2 separate regions of the Homo sapiens genome follow, and region 2 is linked to region 1. The links come from fine-mapping of genetic effects on gene expression. A gene starts in region 1. The other region holds a variant in brackets. All regions are shown on one strand. Distances are from middle to middle.

Region 1 (11,269 bases):
GCTCACTGCAGCCTTGAATTCCTGGGCTCAAGCAATCCTTCCGCCTCAGCCTTCTGAGTAGCTGGGGCTACAGGCATGTGCCACCACTCCTGGCTTTCTTCCTCCTTTTTTTTTTTTTTTTTGAGACGGAGTCTCACTCTGTCGCCCAGGCCGGAGTGCAGTGGCTCCATCTTGGCTCACTGCAACCTCCATCTCCCGGGTTCAAACAATTCTCCTGCCTCAGCCTCCCTGGTGGCTGGGACTACAGGCGCCTGCCACCATGCCCAACTAATTTTTTGTATTTTTAGTAGAGATGGGGTTTCACCATATTAGCCAGGATGGTCTTGATCTCCTGACCTTGTGATCTGCCTGCCTCGGCCTCCCAAACTGCTAGGATTACAGGCATGAGTCACCACTCCTGGTCCCGCTTTATTCCTTTTTAAGGCTAAATAACATTCCGTTATATGTGTATACCACATTTTGTTTATCCATTCATCTGTTGATGGATACTAGGATTTCTTCTCCCTTTTGCCTATTGTGAATAATACTGCTGATTATACTGCTGTGATCATGGGAGTATGAGAAACTCATTTTAAGTGATAAACTGATAAACTCTCCTTCCACAAAATACTTATGTGGATAAATTACTTGTTCTATATGGCTAGGTTGTAGTTCACCAGATGAGTAAGCACCTATCCCTGGTGACTAGTCTGTCTTTTACAAAATATGACAAAAATTAGGTACTATTTCAAATGCTTTCTAGATTTTCTACCAAGTGGTAGTAGAATTCCATTTTATTTGAATCAGCTATCCTGCTCGGGCTGTGGATCAATCCTGTAGAGGCTGTGTTCCAAAAATGTAGCAACAAAAGTCTTTGTATGTTGAGAATGAAATAAAGGGTTTGTGCTGTATACTTTAACTCACAAATGCTAAAGCAAAGTTGTAAACTTCAAAACCAACCTAAAAATGCTCCCTGGGCCGGGCGCAGTGGCTCACGCCTGTAATCCTAGCACTTTGGGAGGCTGAGGCGGGCAGATCACGAGGTCAGGAGTTTGAGACCAGTCTGGCCAACATAGTGAAACCCCATCTCTACTAAATATATAAAAAATTAGCCAGGTATGGTGGTGTGCGCCTGTAATCCCAGCTACTTGGGAGGCTGAGGCAGGAGAATCGCATGAACCCGGGAGGCGGAGTTTGCTATGAGCTGAGATTGCACTCCAGCGCGGGTGACAGTGTGAGACTCTGTCTCAAAAAAAAAAAAAAAAAAAAAAGCTCCCTGGTCATGTTGCTCTAGAAGTTGTAAGCACATTAGCTTGAAGCTAGAAGCCACTTTAAGATCCTTTTATTGCTGCCTGTGTTCCTCTATAGACGTTTTAGCTCAACTTCTACACATGGTCTTAGCTTTTTTGTATTACAGAACCTAGTACCTAATTTGCATTTTTACTTCTTTCATTCTTAATGAACCACTGTGTGAGGACATGCTTTCTTTTTTATGGACAGTTCAGCTAGGTGTTTTTACAAGAATTCAGCTGTGTTAGTCAATAAGTGGGAATTTTATAGAGTCAATCAACTTTGGAAAAATGGTGATTACTTATTTTAACATTGTTTTTTCTGAAGGCATTGCCTTTTCATGTTCCCACAACCCACCCACCTACTCTTACAGCATGAAGGAAATGAATTTTTATTTGTATGTGTATATTCACTTTGATCCCTTTGACACTTTTCCTTACTTTTTCACTTACAATAAAAGGCAATTGAAGGCCAGGCACCGTGGCTCACGCCTGTCATCCCAGCACTTTGGGAGGCCAAGGTGTGTGGATCACTTGAGGTTAGGAGTTCGAGACCAGCCTGGCCAACATGCTGAAACCCCGTCTCCACTAAAAATATAAAAATTAGCCGTGCGTGGTGGTGCATGCCTGTAATCCTAGCTACTTGGGAGGCTGAGGCAGGATAATCAGTTGAACCCAGGAGGCAGAGGTTGCAGCGAGCCGAGATTGTGCCGCCGTACTCCAGCCTGGACGATAAGAGCAAAACTCCGTCTCAAAAAAAAAAAAAAAAAAGGCAACTGAGGTGAAAAGAGTCTTGGCTATACTACTGAAAAGGAGGGACACTAAAATTTGTTGGTCTCTTTGGGTTACAACTGGGCTGCATCAGTGTGCTTTAGAGTTACAGGAATATCCCGAAATTGAGAATCTGATGGGACTATACAATTTTAGAGCCAGTTCTACAGGTGAGACATAGACAACTTGTTCTGCTTGTCTGAAAACTTGTCTATAGAACTCTACAGAGAGGCTAAGAGGGAGTAAACTATCCTTTCTTTCTAGATCTTCATCTGCTGGTGGACGTGGCCTGCAAGCAGGAGCGCTTTCCAAAGGAGGAAGAATTAAAAGAGTGAGGAATGGATGACAAATGTGACATTGTGCACTAGCTGTAGCTGGAGGCAGACTAGCCTTGCACATGACAAACTGTTGGGATTTTTTCAGTTCTGTTAAGGAAAAAAAAGTATTTTTTGTTTCGTTAATTGAGAATTTTGTTAATTGAGAATTGGGAATTTGTATGTACTACAGTGGTTCAGTTCAGATTATCTGCCTTGACAAACTACTGAACATCTAGCAGCCACGTTTTTTGGCTGCCCAGATCCCTTTTAAATGAAAAGTTCTGACCTTCTGTTATAGTCAAGGAGCATCTAAAAACTGCTCCATCTATGGTACTAAGAATAATCTGTGTGTGTGCTGATTTGTTGTCTTGCCACTCAAACTGTAGTCAGCACAACTTTAGTGGGGAATTCAGTCTCTCTGATTCAAGTCACAGTGTGATCCTTTTAGAGGAGATTGTGTGAGAAACAAAGGCATGTGAGGTCACCAGCATCACAGGTCTAAATGCATCAGGAATTCCAGGGAAGAAACTCTGGAGAAGAGCTAATTTTCTAAGTGATTAACCAGGAAATTCTCTTACTTCCTAACCCAGCATTCTGTTTTAAGAGCAAGGCATCCGGACTTGGACCATCTATCACACTTAACAGCCCCTGATTCTTTTATATTAATGGAAGCATTCTTCTATTTTCATATCTTTCTTTAATTTTAATGATACATTATCATAAATGGTAAAAAGATTTTATTAATATATCACTTATTTAAATGTCTTTAAAGAAAGTATTTAACTTGTTTAATATAATTGTATTTATAAATGCTGATAGATTTAAAGGTTTTAAAGTTTTATATTTTTATTATTGCAGGATAGAAGGATAAAGGATGCATGTGTAGTATTTTTATTTTGAAAGGAAAATGTACAATGTGTGAACAAAAACATTAAGAGATTTAATATACTATTTTCTTATTTTAGATTTTTACATTCAATAAGTATAAATTCTCATCTATATAAGGTATTGTGTGCAAATTTGGGAAAAAACTGATTAGCAGCCATTTAGTAGAAGCTATGCCTCTGATTTTTAAAGAATGGTTTCAATCTGGTTTAAGCTTCTGAGAGAATTTTGGATAATGGGATAGATGGTAACATTTTTTTCTTATCCCTGTTACAGGATTCTAGATTTGTGCAGTAGGATTGTGGGACTGTGTTTTAGGAGAGAAGGATGTCTTGGATGTCCAGTTTCTGTGGTTAATCCCTTACTTGCTTATCCAGTGACAGCAAGAAACTTTCTGATTTAAAGTCTTTCAATTGACCAAAACTTTCTTATTGGATTCTGTTTCAGTTCTCCTATTAAGCACTGCAGAAACGAAAGGAAAGCCTAGGAATATGAAACTAATTAAAAAGGCACTTGGTGATATGACATAGTACTATGCTAGCCGTTGTGGATGTAACAGTTCATTTCTTATACTGCATTGTGCCTTCCCAATGATGTCAAACCCTAGAAATATTACAGAGATCTACTTTTCTGGAAAAGGGTGAGCTCTGTATTGATCTGCAGTGACTCTGTTTAGATATTAAAGTAGGTTCTGAAAAGCGACCTGTGTGGTCCCTCTGATTAGACTAGTTAATGTCTATGTGATGGGCATTTATTTATCTTTATTAGCAAGGTTTAAAAGAGCAAATTATCAAGACACCTATATCTTTTGGCCAGACTATATAATATTTTGTCAGAGTATGTGAAGAGGAGACCCAATTTCCAAATGAAGGAACTTTGCTTTTTCTCTGTCATGTTGAAGAGCTAATATACTGTGTAGATTTTCCCCTAAATATGGCTTTCTTAGCTTTATAGATGTTGAGATAATATCTTTTGAGGAACACATGTCAAGCAGGAACCTTGGCATAGATTTGGTTTCAGTTGTTTTAAGGCTTAATTAATGAAATGCCTTAATCAGCTTTCCAAACATTTTTATATATGAATACAGCAGACCAAGGAGCTGGATCTCCTGCTATCCTTACACGCCTTGTATCTATCAACTAAAGCTGTCATTAATGACTTGGGCAAAATGGCAAGAGGTATAATAAAGTCTTCCTGTGAATTAGCCAGTAGGGTCTGACACAACTAGTCAACTAACAAGGTTCCTGACTAGTACCTCAGTATTTCAGCACCTTAAGCACTGATAAATTTCAATCAGTCAACAATAAAGTGAGTGTTCCAACTAGACTTGTTGTCTTGCTTGTTCTTACTGTTTGGTGATTAATAGAAAATTCAATAATTATGACAGTTAATAGTATAATTCAAATGAGATTTACTTTATTTTTCAAATAATCTGAATTTTAAAAGTTTTTTTTCATTTGTACTTGAATAGCAATGGAATTTTTTAAATGCCGTTAGGGATAAGGACAATTCTTAGACATGTTTTACAGAAACCTACATTTTTGGAAAAGGATGAATGATCTTTGATAAATTTAATCAATCCAGAGGTGAAAGTAGATCCTGAAGGATGATCTATCTCATGTATAAGACTAGCTAGTAGATGTCATTGAGACTTAGGCATTTCATTACAATAGTGATGGCATCTTTATGACATCTCTAGGAAAATGTAGTAGTATATCAACCCTAGAGGGTAACTCCAAAACTTTGAAGCTGAAGAATAATTGCTCTTGCAATTCTGGTGATCTAAAACAGTGAACTAAGCTACATAGAGCTGTTTGGTTTGATCTTGAGTTTCTCCAAGTCTCCAGGTTCATGATGCATATCATCATCATTTCCAAATCTCAGAGTTTCCTCAAGAGAGGGCAACCACATTTGTAACTGTCTTCTTTCTGTCAATTAAGTGTGTGTATTAATTACTAGGGCTAGGTCTTTTCATTCCTTTGCACGTTTTAAGCAGGAATAGATGAGGCAAAGCCCATTTGTAGGTTATTTTTTAGTTTAACTATGTTAAATTAAACTATGTTGGTCAGGCTGGTCTCAAATTCCCGACCTCGTGATCCACCCACCTTGGTCAACCAAAGTGCTGGGATTATAGGCGTGAGTCACCACGCCTGGCCCAACAAAAATTTTTTTTAAATTTGCAGGGTGTTGGCCAGGCGCAGTGGCTCACGCCTGTAATCCCAGCACTTTGGGAGACCGAGGCGGGTGGATCACAAGGTCAGGAGATGGAGACCATCCTGGCTAACACGGTGAAACCCCGTCTCTACTAAAAATACAAAAAATTAGCTGGGCGTGGTGGCGGGCGCCTGTAATCCCAGCTACTCGGGAGGCTGAGGCAGGAGAATGGCATGAACCGGGAGGCGGAGCTTGCAGTGAGCCGAGATAGCGCCACTGCACTCCAGCCTGGGCAACAGAGCGGGACTCCGTCTCAAAAAAAAAAAAAAAAAAATTTGCAGGGTGTGGTGGGACGCACCTGTGATCCCAGCTACTCTGGAGGCTGAGGTGGGAGGCCATGAAGGTCAAGGCTGCAGTGAGCCATGATGGCACAACTGTGCTCCAGCGTGGGTAACACAAGACCCTGTCTCAAACAACAAAAATAAACAAAAAATTTATTTTCGAATTTGTCTTTGATCTAGGTTAGTTATTAGATCTGAAATTCTGAAACTACTGTCATAAACCTTATCTACAGGGGAAACAATGTTGAAGGTCAATAGGCTACTCATCCTTTTTGCTTTCAGAGGCATTATGTCATTTAATCTTTACAACAGACCTATCGTAATTATTATCATCAGCATTTTACAGATGATCAGAGATTCGTTTTTACATGAGGTAAGAAACACATAAAATTTACTATCATAACCATTTTTAAGTGTACAGTTCACTAGATTTAACTATATCCACATTGTTGTTCATTTGTATAATTTTGAAAGTTTATGGCAGCGGTTCAGAAATAAAATGTCTCACCACAGTCAAATATAATCTGGTAATTTGAAACTTCAAATGTTATAAATGTATTAGAAACTGTTGTATTATTTCTAATGGCAGGGTAGTAATAAGGATTATAGTTCATGAATGTGGTAATTAGCCAGAAATTCATTTTCTTTTTGCCTATGTTCTTCTCATTAATCATATTTTACCCTTTGGCTTGTATTTATGACATGGACTTATTTGGAGTCTTACATTGAAGGCATAGGTCTGATCCATAGTATTATTTCACCTCCCAAAGATTGAAAAGAAAATAACAGTTGGATTCCAGACATCTGACATCAACCTGATTTGAAAGTTCCATATAGGCACAGTTTAGACAGAGCTACTGAATTTAAATTAGTAAGAGCTGAAGAAAAGCTAAGCATAAAATGGACAGAGCCCTTCCCAGGGTAGCAGACATAAGCAGCAATAAATCAGTAAGTACTAAAACACAGGATCACTTTATTCTGGCTTTCTGCCATTTATAGACACTCAAACTTGGAATGAGCAGAAATCCTTTTGAACTTATATTTGCAAAACCTTGTGTCCATTCTTTTATCTTCCGGATTACCTTTATTTTTTTCTGTTTATTTCCTCATACCATCATCTATGCTCTGTTGGGTGCAGAGTCTGCTTAGATATCTTTGAGTGGCCCTGATTTGCATGTGGTAGCTTGCTTACCCAGAGAAAGGTACTCGGGATCGAATTGGATGCAGTTTAGCTGTGGCTCAGTAGAGGGAGTAGAGGAGCTGAGGGAGGGGGGAGAGCGAAAGAACGGGTCTGGTTAAGTAAGTGTTGTGTGTGAGCACCAGGAGGAGGGGGGCAGGGTGGGGAGTGGTTGCCTCTAGCAGCTCCACCCTCACTTTGTCAGCAGGTAGAGAGCGTGATTGCAGTCCCAGGGGAGGGAGTCAGAGCTAGAACACCAATTACAAACCACAGGCTTCCTGCTCTAGGGAGTTGATCCAGAATTGTCTTTCTGAAAGGAAGCACTCGGAATCCTTCCGAACTTTCCAAGTCCATCCATGATTCAGAGATACTGCCTTCTCTCTCTCTGGGATTTTATGTGTTTCTGATAGTGAATTGTTGATGTATTTGCTACTTTGCTTCTTTTCTCTTTCAAGACTTGATCATTTTATATGCTGTTTGGAGAAAAAAAGAACTTTTGTTAGCAAGGAGGTTTCAGAAATGATTTTGGATTTTCTGTAAGTGTTTAATTTAGTTCTAGGGGACAGCATCTCTCATCCCGGAGTAAATTTCTGCCTTTGACCTGCATGGATTATTTTTTCAGGCTGCGGAATTTCTCGGCACCTACCTGTAGTATGGGGCACTTGGTTTGGTTGCAGAGTAAGAAGGTGGAAGAATGAGCTGTACTTGGTTAAGCAGTTGAAACCTTTTTTGAGCAGGATCTGTAAAAGCATAATTGAATTTGTTTCACCCCCGTGGATTCCAGTGGGCCCGACAGCGCAACAGGTTTGCAGATTTCTTTTGAAATTCCTTTTTCCCCCCTCCCTCTGCCTCAGCAAAAGAAAAGAATCCATATAACAGGTTCATGTTCAATTGCTTGGCTTTTCAGCACTTATTCTGAAGACTTTATAATATTTTTAAACTTGACCTTGGAACACAGAGGGCTTTGTGGGTGAGGTGTATTTATATTTACTTAAGGGTGCACATTTTAAAAATCTTATTCTGTGTTTGTACAAAGACGCAAATTTTCATAGTGCCTAGAAATAGCACAGATCTATTCTACTCAAGATTATTTGTATTTTTTCAGGGTATTCTACCTAGAGCCTGTGGTTAATCGCCTCCCTGCTCCCCCTACCTTTTATTCCCTACCCCCTCAGGGAATTTGGATACATGTGAGGAATAGTCCTTTGTTTTTCTTATGAACCTAGAAAATTACAGATCATAAAATCTGGATATTAAAGTAGTTTCCAAAAGCATCTCATGGGAAATCAAAGTGCTCGGCATTTCCGAGCTGGAGAATAAAATCAAGAATCCTTAAGAGAGAAAAGAAAATGGAGATGGAAATATGAATTTTAACTGGGAAAAATAATTGGAAAGCTAACCTTTTCAAATACTCTAATTATGAAAGTTGGAAAAGGTTGTGATGCTCAGGATTATCCTGTAATGTGTGAAGATACATAAATTAGCACCTAATTTATAGGCAAATTTTGGTAAAACACAAAAAATTATGGTATGTCTAAGTTCATGAAAAGTATGTAAATGCAGTGGGCCTAGAAACCTGGCCACACTGAAATACAGTTTAATGTGGAAACTTTTCTAAATACATATTGTAGCATCTTTGGACATCAACGTGTGGCCTGAAATTTTTATTATTGTTCCCTCTTCTCCTCCATTAAAAAAAAAATCTCCTTGTGGTATTTAGTCATTTACCATTAACACATATTATGGCTTAAAAAGGGCCATCCCTTCCTTTTCTGAGCTGGAGTTCTTCACGCTCACCTTTGATGCATGGCCTTAGCTGTTTACTTTGCCTTGTTTTGTTCATGAACATTGGGTTTAGTGCCTGGCAACTTGATGCATATGGAAGAGCAATGCCAAGTGATCTGACATAATACAAATTCACGAAGTGACATTCAATCACAAGCAAAGTTGGAAATTCCAAAGAGAAGTGGTGAGATCTTTACTAGTCACAGTGAAGATGGGAGAAAATGACATACCTGCAGCAGATGTGGGCTGAAAATATCCTCTTCTCTGCCCAATCAGGAATGCTACCTGTTTTTGGGAATAAACTTTAGAGAAAGGAAGGGCCAAAACTACGACTTGGCTTTCTGAAACGGAAGCATAAATGTTCTTTTCCTCCATTTGTCTGGATCTGAGAACCTGCATTTGGTATTAGCTAGTGGAAGCAGTATGTATGGTTGAAGTGCATTGCTGCAGCTGGTAGCATGAGTGGTGGCCACCAGCTGCAGCTGGCTGCCCTCTGGCCCTGGCTGCTGATGGCTACCCTGCAGGCAGGCTTTGGACGCACAGGACTGGTACTGGCAGCAGCGGTGGAGTCTGAAAGATCAGCAGAACAGAAAGCTATTATCAGAGTGATCCCCTTGAAAATGGACCCCACAGGAAAACTGAATCTCACTTTGGAAGGTGTGTTTGCTGGTGTTGCTGAAATAACTCCAGCAGAAGGAAAATTAATGCAGGCAAGTATAACTTTATTATATTTCACTTTCCATCTGTTTGAAATATGTCTTTCTTCTTTTGTCTCCCAAATGAAATACCATACACGGGCTTCTACTGCTTAGCTTTCTATTTCATAGAAAGAGTAGATACTGCCTTATTGGCATTCTAAATTTAGCAAATTATTATTTTATACTCTGGAGGAAATACATAAATCCTATATTTTAGAAGATTATCTGCTTATTTTAAACTGGTGTTGCATAACTACTTAGATAGACATAATAATACCTTTTTTTCAAGTGATATATTCTGGGCACTAATTTTTGATAGATGAAATATATGAGCTTATATTTAATTGATGCGAGGATTGTATTTTACATCCTGTTTAAATTGAAGTAAGCACTAAGAAGGTTGATTTTAATGGTCAGCAGCACCTGAAATTCTGGAATGCCCTTGGAGCATATTTGATTACTGTGTCACTTAAAATTCAGTCAAGCTTGAATGCTATGGCTGGCCTTACACCACGTGTGGCACCCTATTGCTAACCCCAAAATGGAGAGGACTGGATTACAAAATGGACACAAGGTGTAAACCTGCCTCCTGATCACTTTGGCCTTGTCCACACATAATTTTATCATTTTCAGGAATTTAAATTTAACATGTTTTTTACTGATCCGCCAAGTTTTTCAGACATAGTTTCTTAGGCTTTCAGGCTGTGAATTTTGCCTGTAAGTCATTCATACATGGCCTATTCTTTATGTGGTGAATTTATGAAATGACTGGGGGCACAGCATTTCATAGACCAATTGCTCATTCCCCATAGTAAAGACAGAGCCTAGAGGGCTATACCTTTTTAATGGGCATTCCATTGTCTTACTCCATAAAATGATGTTGCTTATTGATTGAAATTTATCATGTAAAAGAACACTTCTTGCTGTAGCTACTGGACACAGGTTAAAATATTCTTAAGTGTGATCCATCTTAGCATCCAAACTCAAATTTTAATTTTGTGGTATGAACAGACTATGAACAGAACCAATTTATTGTATGAATTTTAATTTTTGTCTACTTAAAGAAGATAGGAAAATTTAACAGATTATAGAACTTATTCCTAAACATGTATTCTTTAATATATGGTTTAGTGGTTATTCATTATCACTTCTTAGGCAATATTTTGAAGCTGGGATAAATGAAGTGAAGGAGAATTAGGTGAAAATGGAAGGCTTTGCTATTTAGAAAAATAGGAAAGAAGAGTATATCTGGAAAAATGGCATAAGATTTTTTTGAATAAGATAATTTGGATTCTAAAATGGAATTAGGAATACTTAAAAGCTGAACTCATAAATCATCTTGAATACTATGGCAATTGGAAAGGAAACTTCCTTCCTGGCCTTGCCTAGTTAATACCCTGAAGCATGAATTGTGTGCTCCATTTTAGGACCGTAAGTAATTTTGCTAGTCATATTTTGATATCACTGAAGTTTTTGAGAGCCATACGTGCCTTATTGATAACCTGTGATAGCATGTTCAGTGGGCTAATTATGTGTTCCATAAAATAATGTATTCTTTTAAGTTTTAATCTTATTATCATAAAGCTCTACATAAAGTTTGTGTTTTCATAAAGGAAAAAGTAAACAAACAGCACCAGTTGGCATTCTCTTTGCCATTCATTATTTTATCAATCTTTATCATGTCTTCTATTGTTCTATCGTTTTTCTCACTCTGGCAAATCTTACCAATCTATTTTGTTTTTTAAACTATTAACTTTGATCCTATCATTATACATTAAGTATTGCTTTTACTTTGTGAAGAGGGAATTTCATCATAACTTAGCAAAGACTTTCAGCCTTTACAGTGGATAGTTTTATGTCATTGGCAATTTTT
Region 2 (8,000 bases), 45 kb after region 1:
AGAAGCAACTTCAGGCCAACCTGTTTTTTTCCCACCCCCATATCTGCAGGAGCTTTACTTTATGATGCCGGTGTGTCCTCCTACCTAAGATAAAAGTTCAGGTAATGGAGGTTGTGCAGGAAAGGATGATTGTAAAATCTGAAAAGAGGAAATGGGGAGAATGATGCCTTTGATGCCTGGCCAATGTTCTTGATTACAAAGGCAAAATTGTAGCAAGCAGTAAAGTTACCTGTCCAAGGCCTGGTTGAAGGTCTGTACGTGGAATCAGAGAACTAAGAGACAATTGCAGCAGAGGTCGGTGGTGGGGGCAGGAGGGGGTGGGTGGGTGGGTGGGGAGGAGAGTTCCTGGGAAACAGGAGACAGTGAAGAATTGCTTGCAGAAGCACACACCCAAAGAGGAGGAGATGCCATGGATAAGGGGAGACCAGCATTAAGTTCCAGGCCCAGTTGAGCCCTGAAATGCCCTTTGTGAGGAGGTAATGAGATCACATGGCTTCCTTCATGGGAAGGAGGCAGGCTGAGAACTGGAAGAGCTTGTTCAGTGGGGTTTGGAGGGCTGAGAACAGGAGGGAAGTGACTGTGGATAATGAGCTGTCCCAGAATGCGCCTTGCAGAACACTGGCATTCAGAAGCACTGTTGATTACCAAAGAACGGGGGAGGGGTTCAGAAAAGGCCTTGTCCCTTCCAGGAATAAGAAGGGACTTTATTATAGATGCAGTAATAAAAACAGCTGCCATTAAGTGAGCACTTACTAAGTGTCAGGCTTTTTGCTAGGCACTGATATCCATTATCTCCTGTCTACACAAAGCATTCTTGTTCCCATTCCAAAGACGAGCAATATGAGGCTCAGAAAGATTAACATGCCCAAGGTCACACAGGTAAATGATGGGGTCAGAATCTGAACTCTAGGTCTGTCTTGGGAGGGAGGGGAAAAAATCAGAACAAATAAGTTAAGGAGGACACAGGGAGAATAGACTCAGGAATATGAAATACAACACACACCACCGAAGGACAGTTCACATGTCTTTACACAGGGGGTATAAAATATGTATGCAAAGCTGAATTCTGAGTCAGAATGACCCAACTCGTGCTTGAAAGCAAGTGCCTCTTAATTTGCCCCTCATGGCAGCCTGTGAGACAGTGGTGTCCTAACTCCTGGCCTTTGAGGAAGTCAAATTCACCAAGTTTCCATGAGCCCTCCACAGCCACACCCTTCTCAAATCAGGCAAGCTCATTTCTCTTGACCCTCCCCTGGTGTCACTGAGGGGACAGGTGGCCCACTGTAGAAATCGTGTTTGCATCTTCATGATTAGGAGACCTTGCATTCCAAGGAGACAGATGTATTTGCATCTGTTTTCTCAAGAGCCCGCTTCCTGGCTGAAAATTCCTTGGAGGAAGGGCAAAGACAGCCCCTGTGTTATACCCAGGGAATGCCAATGCTGTCTTTCTTGCTAGGTGCTGAACTGAGTCCTAGTTCAAATGGCTATTATTTGTTTTTAATTTGAGAATATTTGAAAAGCTCTCATTGTAAAAGAGTCAAGCCATACAAAAGTATAATGAGTATGATTGTCATACCACAGATATAATTGTACTAGAAAGATCATGTTACTTTATTTATTTATTTTTTTTATCAAATCTAACACCAAGGTCCTATCCCATTAGCTGCATAGACATTTGTTTTCAAGGGCACTTCTCCTCATAGAGTAGCACAAAAGTCCCAGAGTTTTATGAAAACCAAGATATCCAAGGGACCCCTCTGATATTCATCCATGCTGGCCACCACAGATATGTTTCTTGTCCAAACACAGGCATTCCCTTGAAATCCACGCAGGCACATCATCTCTCCCAGGGGCCAGCCTCCTGGGGTCTAGTACTCAGTCCTTCTCCAGGGACCCACCGCTTCTGGGGCACAGGCTGCAGCTTCCCACTACTCAGCATGGCTCCAGGCCCCTCACACTGGCTCCAGACACCTCCTTCCTGCCCTCCTGGTTCTGAGACTTTGACCCCTCCCTTCACCACAGGCCCTTCTGCCTTCAGGACACTCACACTTCCTCAGTGAGTTCAGTTTTTCTGCAAAAGCCAGGAAGGGAGAACTTTAAACAACATTTGCTTTTGGCAAATGCCCCTAAGGCAAGGAAATAGAAGGTGAAGCCATCTTCTTGGAAGGGAAGGAGGGAAAAGACATGGAACAAAATATAAATAACTGTCGTTCTTTTTTATTCTTCTACAACAGCAAAAAACAAAACTCAAATCTCATGTATTATCTTCTGATCAAAGTATTCAAAGCAAAACACCAAAGTCCCTCTCTACTACCCCCTCTCTAATTCCTCTCCCAGAGCAACCATTATAGGATTTGGGTGTGCTCTGTCTTGTCTTCATAGTTAACTATCGTCAATTATCTGGTTATAGACTTCCAATATTTAATCAACAAATATTGATTGAGTGCCCACAAAGTAACAGGCAGTGGGGGGCAGGCTAGACTCAGTCATCATCTGGAGAAGAGAGGGAAGTAAGCCGACAATTACAATACCGTGGGGTAATGTATGATTAGGGAAATGCCGGACAGAGCAGCAAGTGCCAAAGGTGTTCAGGGAAATGAAACAAGTTATTATTTCTGGAACATAGGTCGCAAGGTGGGAAGAGATATAGGATGGGAATGTTAAGCCATGAGGCAGGGCCCAGACCAGGCAGAGCCTTTTCAGCTATGTTTAAGAGTACAGACTTTATTTCAGGAGCTATGAGGAGCCTTGTAAGAGCTGCAAGTAGAAGAGTAACGTGCTCAAGTTAGCATTTTAGACCACTTTGGCTGCAATATAGAGAACGAATGGGATGAAGTGACCCTAGGGAGTAGGTTATTTCGGTAAATAGGGTTGGCAGTGATGGTGGCCTGTATTACAATAGCGATAGTGAGAATGGAAGAAAGAATAAAATAAGACAAATATTTAGGAGGTAGAATTGTTAGAATTTGGCGATTGATTGGATATTGGTGGTTAGAGTGGGGGTGAAGGAGATGGAGGCTAGGAGGACAGCATCTTGCTTGGGTAATAGATGGATGATGGTTCCAATCCCAGAGACAGCAAACACTGGAGGAGCAGTTTTGGGGATAGAATGAGTTCAGTCTTGAGCATGCTGAGTTTGAGGTGTTCTACTTAAGATTATTAAGGTAGAAACGTCCAGGGTTAGACATAAGGGTCTGGAGCTCAAGAGAAGACCAAACTGTACATATGTAATCACTGACCTCTGTGTGGGCACCGTAGCCATGGGATTGGCTGCTGTCACCCAGAGAAGTCATCAAGAGTGAAAAGAGGGGGCCAGACACGGTGGCTCATGCCTGTAATCCCAGCACTGTAGGAGGCCGAGGCAGGCAGATCATGAGGTCAGGAGTTCAAGACCAACCTGGCCAACATAGTGAAACCCCATCTCTACTAAAAATACAAAAATTAGCCAGACATGGTGGCGGGCGCCTGTAGTCCCAGCTACTTGGGAGGCTGAGGCAGGAGAATTGCTTGAACCCAGGAGGTGGAGGTTGCAGCAAGCCAAGATTGCACCACTGCACTCCAGCCTGGGTGACACAGCGAGACTCTGTCTCAAAAAAAAAAAAAAAAGAAGAGTGAAAAGAGAGGAGGGTCTAAGAATCCCGGGGGTCACCATCAACATTTTAGGGACTTGTATTTGGGTCCTTATGCTTTAGTAAGATAAATTTTCTTAGTAAATGAGTTCGGGGAAGGTATCATGTTTTCAAAATAAAATGTAAATTGTTCTTAAATATTTTTTTAACCTTATCCTACTACTACTTTCCTTTTTTTTTCTAATCTCTACCACTTACTAGCTGTGTAATCTTGGGCATGTTATTTAACCTTTTAGTGCCTCAGTTTCCTCATCTTTAAAATGGGAACAATAACAATCTCTACCTGATAGTGTTGTTATGAGGATGAAAAGAGTTAATATGAAAAAGTGCATAGAACAATCACTGGCCCACAGTATTTACCCAATAAATATAAACTGTACTGTCCCCATCCTGACTATCATTAGCATGGAGATGGATGGAGGGTTGCTGGATGGAGGGTTCATTTGGAGCTCCATGGCTCCGACAATGGAGTCAGGCAGAGTTGAGTTCAAATCTTGTGTGACCTTGATTTCTCTCAGCCTCAAGCTTCTCTTCTTTAAGTGGCTATGATAGGGGTAGTGGGGAGATGGAGATGGTTAATGGGTTTTAAAAAAAAAGTTAAAATGAATGAATAAGGCCTAGTATTTGATAGTACAATGGGGTGACTATAGTCAACAATAATTTTATTGTACATTTAAAAATAACTAAAAGAGTATAATTGAATTGTTTGTAATACAAGGGATTAATGCTTGAGGAGATGGATATTCCATTCTCCATGATGTGATTATTACACATTGCATGCCTATATCAAAACATATCATGTATCCCATAAATATATACACCTACTATGTGCACATAAAAATTAAATAATTGTTTTTAAAAATGGCTATAACACCTACCTTATGGTGAAATAATGTCTAAAAGCTCTGGCACACAAGAGGCCTTTATTGATGTTTAATTTCCTTCCATTCCTTCTTCCATAGTTGTTAATTCGGAACCAGGCAAGTTTGGTGGCTCATACCAGGTTTTTTTTCCCTTCCACCTTGTCAGAGGTATCCTACAATGCAGCACTGAGCTGTAGATGCTGGTTCCCTGTTCAAACCTGGGGAAGAGTGCTGTTTAAATATCTGCAGACACACTGTAGGAACTTCTCCAAAGTGACTTTCCTCTCCCAGGCGACCCTCTGGTCAGTGAGCGGCATCTTGGAGTCATCAGGAGAAGGCTGGACC[A/G]TGTGGGGAGGGTCGAGGAGCAAGCAGAGCAGAACCTTCTGTGGCTGCGATTTGTCCTTCCTCAGGGAAGGCCTCCATCTTCTGCTCTGGTGGAGCAGCTGCCTTCAGATTCCCCACCACACCAGAGTCTCCTCCACAGTCTTCAGAGAAATTGGTCTCCAGTGCAAATCTGTGGTCTCAGCTCTGTGGCCTGACTCTTGCAGATCCTTCCAGCCTTATGTCCTGCCTTCCCTTTCGTGCCAGACCTCACTGCCCACAGTCTACCTCAGCCTCGTGCTAGGCCTCTGTTCCTTGGTGCAGTGGCTTCCTCTGCCAGGAATGTGGCTCCCCAACCCCGCTCCCTTTCATTGGTCCCTGAGGTGAACACATACCTAGTTAGCCTTCCAGGTAGCTCTCCAGTCACCTCTTGTGAAAACTGCTCTGCTTCCCATATGTATTGTTAGCTGCCCCTCTTTGTGCCCTCCCATAGGCCCCTTGCATTGTAACATCACGATGTGTTTGCATGCTTGTCTTTTGAGCTGCTTTAAGGCAAGGAGCCTCTCTTACTCATCATTAGCTCCTCACTGCATTGGACAGAGCCTGACACCAAGGGGGCCTTCCGTGCTGGCAGAACAAAGAAATGAATGGATGCATGGACAGATAGAGAGACTAATGCAGCTTGTTGAGACAGGGGCTACAGCTTCACTGATGTAAGAACAACTCCACCCTCATGCCCCAGCCTTTTTCTTGGGGCAGGGGCACATGATAACCTTTCTCCCACACTAAACCTTGCTCACTACCAGACTAGTAGGCCTTAAACTCTGGGAGCAAGAATGGAACTCCTTCCTATCTCAACACCCCCTGCCCAGAGATTTTGATTCAAAGCAAGGTAGTAGATAGTTATTGAGAACCTACTATGTTCAAGGGACCGCGGTGACACAGTGAGAGGAAATAGCCTGAAAGAGCTTTCAGAAAGTGTGCTTTTAAATCCATCATTGACATTATCTTCATAAACATCTTTATAAATTCAAGATTCTCTGTGGTTCCTCTGATGGTTCTTTCTGGAAGTCCTTCAGACATCAACAGTAGTAGAGGGGGAAGTGTGGGCAGCTCTCTAATAAGAAATCTCTTTCTTGCCAGGATATGTGGGGTTTCTACTATATAGGAGTCCCTGGACCATAGGATTATTCAGGGCCAAATAAGTCATACTTTGTTCTCATTGCACTCTGACATTTTGTTTAGGGAAAATTAGATTCAAATGGGTGTACAAATCGCTGTGAATGAGAAGAGAGAGTAAGGTGGTCTCACCCCTTTGATGAGGAGAGCCTCAGATTTCTGTCAGCACGTTCTCCTTTAGTCATTGTTCAGCACCAGCTGGGCTCAGAGGCACAGGGTCTTGGACAGGATCTGCCCTTAGAGCAGATGGGCTGGGCTGGCTCCACCTCCACGGCATCATTCCTGGGACCAGGGTGAGCTGTCAAAGCTTATGTCTTAGCCAAGCCTCATTGCAAGATAGTCTCACCTCTCTGTCAACACCATGCTTGATCCCAGGATGGGTACAGGGCAGAGGCAAAAAAGGGGCTAGTGAGAGAAGCAAGGTAGCACCGAGTGAGATGACCCAGCCTCCTGAGAAATGGGAATCTACAGGGCAACAGTTGCCTGGGGGCATCCCGAGGAGGCAGGAGGCACCAGCAGCATCCAGCACTGCCCATGGGCATTCTGAAAGCACTGATGCAGGCACACATGGATATTCTCTTAGCCTGGGGCTTGGGGAGCAGGTAGAAGGATCAGGAGGTAGAGAGGCTGGGGCCAGGAGAGGAGCCCTCTGCGTCTGGCCAGTTTAGAGAAGTAGGATTGTTGGAGTTGAAGGTTGTTAGAGTTGCTTTGCAGCAAGCTCTTCATTTAGGTCCCCTCTGGGACACCCTCTCCCTCCTATCTGCCTCCACTACCTGTGTCCTTGGCCCCAGCATCCTGAAGTGACAAACAGTGGTCACTAGCTTACTAAGAGGCAATCCAATCATAAGGCCTACTCTTTTACAGCACCAAGAGACCTGCCTGGTACCTCCCTAGAAAAATGGAGAGGTATATGGCTCTCACAGCTCACTCCTGCTGCCTAAAGCCTCCCTAACCCAAGTCTGTCTCTCTCTGCAGTCCCACCCGCTGTACCTGTGCAATGCCAGTGATGACGACAATCTGGAGCCTGGATTCATCAGCATCGTCAAGCTGGAGAGTCCTCGACGGGCCCCCCGCCCCTGCCTGTCACTGGCTAGCAAGGTAGACTCACACTTCGCCCTACACACACCCGGAGCTTCACCCAGCTCTGGGCTGTGAGAAGACCCTGTGCTCTCTTGTCCCCATGTTTCCTAAGAGTGATGTACCTGATTCCCTTGGGTTTCCCTAACCCATGACTGGTCTGAGAGAAGTGGAAATTCACACCTCTGTTTTTTCTCCTCCGACTAGCACCAGCAGGACTTTTTGACCTTCATCCCAGCATGCTCCCCATCCCACCTCCTTCCCATCACTTGGGAGTTCCTGAGTCCCTTCCCCTGCTCTGCACCAGAGCAAAGAAGGGGTCAATTGAAGGGATTTCCATCTTTTAGAAACATACACTGAGCACTGTGCAAGAACAGCAGAAATAGAAACCATTGCCCCACCCTTAAAAAGTTCACACTTTTCCCCTGAGGTTGCAAACTGGTGGCCCATAAGCTGGGTTTGGCTTGCAGACATGTTGTGTTTAACCCTCACAGCGACTTTTCAATGTGTATATTAATTGCCACATTTAAAAATTAAAAATGTTTATATAAAAGCTGAGATTTTCACTAGGCGTGGTGGCGCACGCCTATAATCCCAGCACTTTGGGAGGCCGAGGTGGGTGGATCACGAGGTCAGGAGATCGAGACCATCCTGGCTAACACAGTGAAACCCCGTCTCTACTAAAAATACAAAAAATTAGCCAGGCGTGGTGGCACATGCCTGTAATCCCAGCTACTCAGGAGGCTGAGGCAGGAGAATGGTGTGAACCCAGGAGGTGGAGCTTGCAGTGAGCCGAGATCGTGCCACTGCACTCCAGCCTGGGTGACAGAGCGGGACTTTGTCTCAAAAAAAAAAAAAAAAAAAAAAAAAACTCAGATTTTCAGCTTCTTTAGAAGAAACCTGCAAAGCACATTGCTGCAGGCCATGGTTT

Alleles and levels. Positions count from the first base shown, and alleles are read on the strand shown. Sizes are in standard deviations (SD) of each study's normalised expression.
As copies of A replace G in region 2, the expression in testis of the gene that starts at base 7,200 in region 1 goes down (small effect, 0.25 SD a copy in GTEx).

The links. PIP is the estimated chance that this variant, and not a neighbour inherited with it, causes the effect.
Region 2: its variant is fine-mapped to the expression of RNF43 in testis (GTEx, PIP 0.97).

Annotation. Positions count from the first base shown.
Region 1 is chr17:58,413,465-58,424,733 of GRCh38, reverse strand. RNF43 (ring finger protein 43) reads left to right here and starts at 7,200. Exons shown (of 10, transcript NM_017763.6): 1 at 7,200-7,717; 2 at 8,772-9,408. The coding sequence starts at 9,157. It overlaps HSF5 (heat shock transcription factor 5), which reads left to right. Exons shown (of 6, transcript NM_001080439.3): 6 at 2,304-4,567. The coding sequence ends at 2,374.
Region 2 is chr17:58,370,001-58,378,000 of GRCh38, reverse strand. It overlaps RNF43 (ring finger protein 43), which reads left to right. Exons shown (of 10, transcript NM_017763.6): 3 at 6,968-7,090. Among named protein-coding and RNA genes, the nearest start is that of SUPT4H1, 22 kb to the right of the region's middle. The variant A/G (reference allele first, on the strand shown) is at 4,838.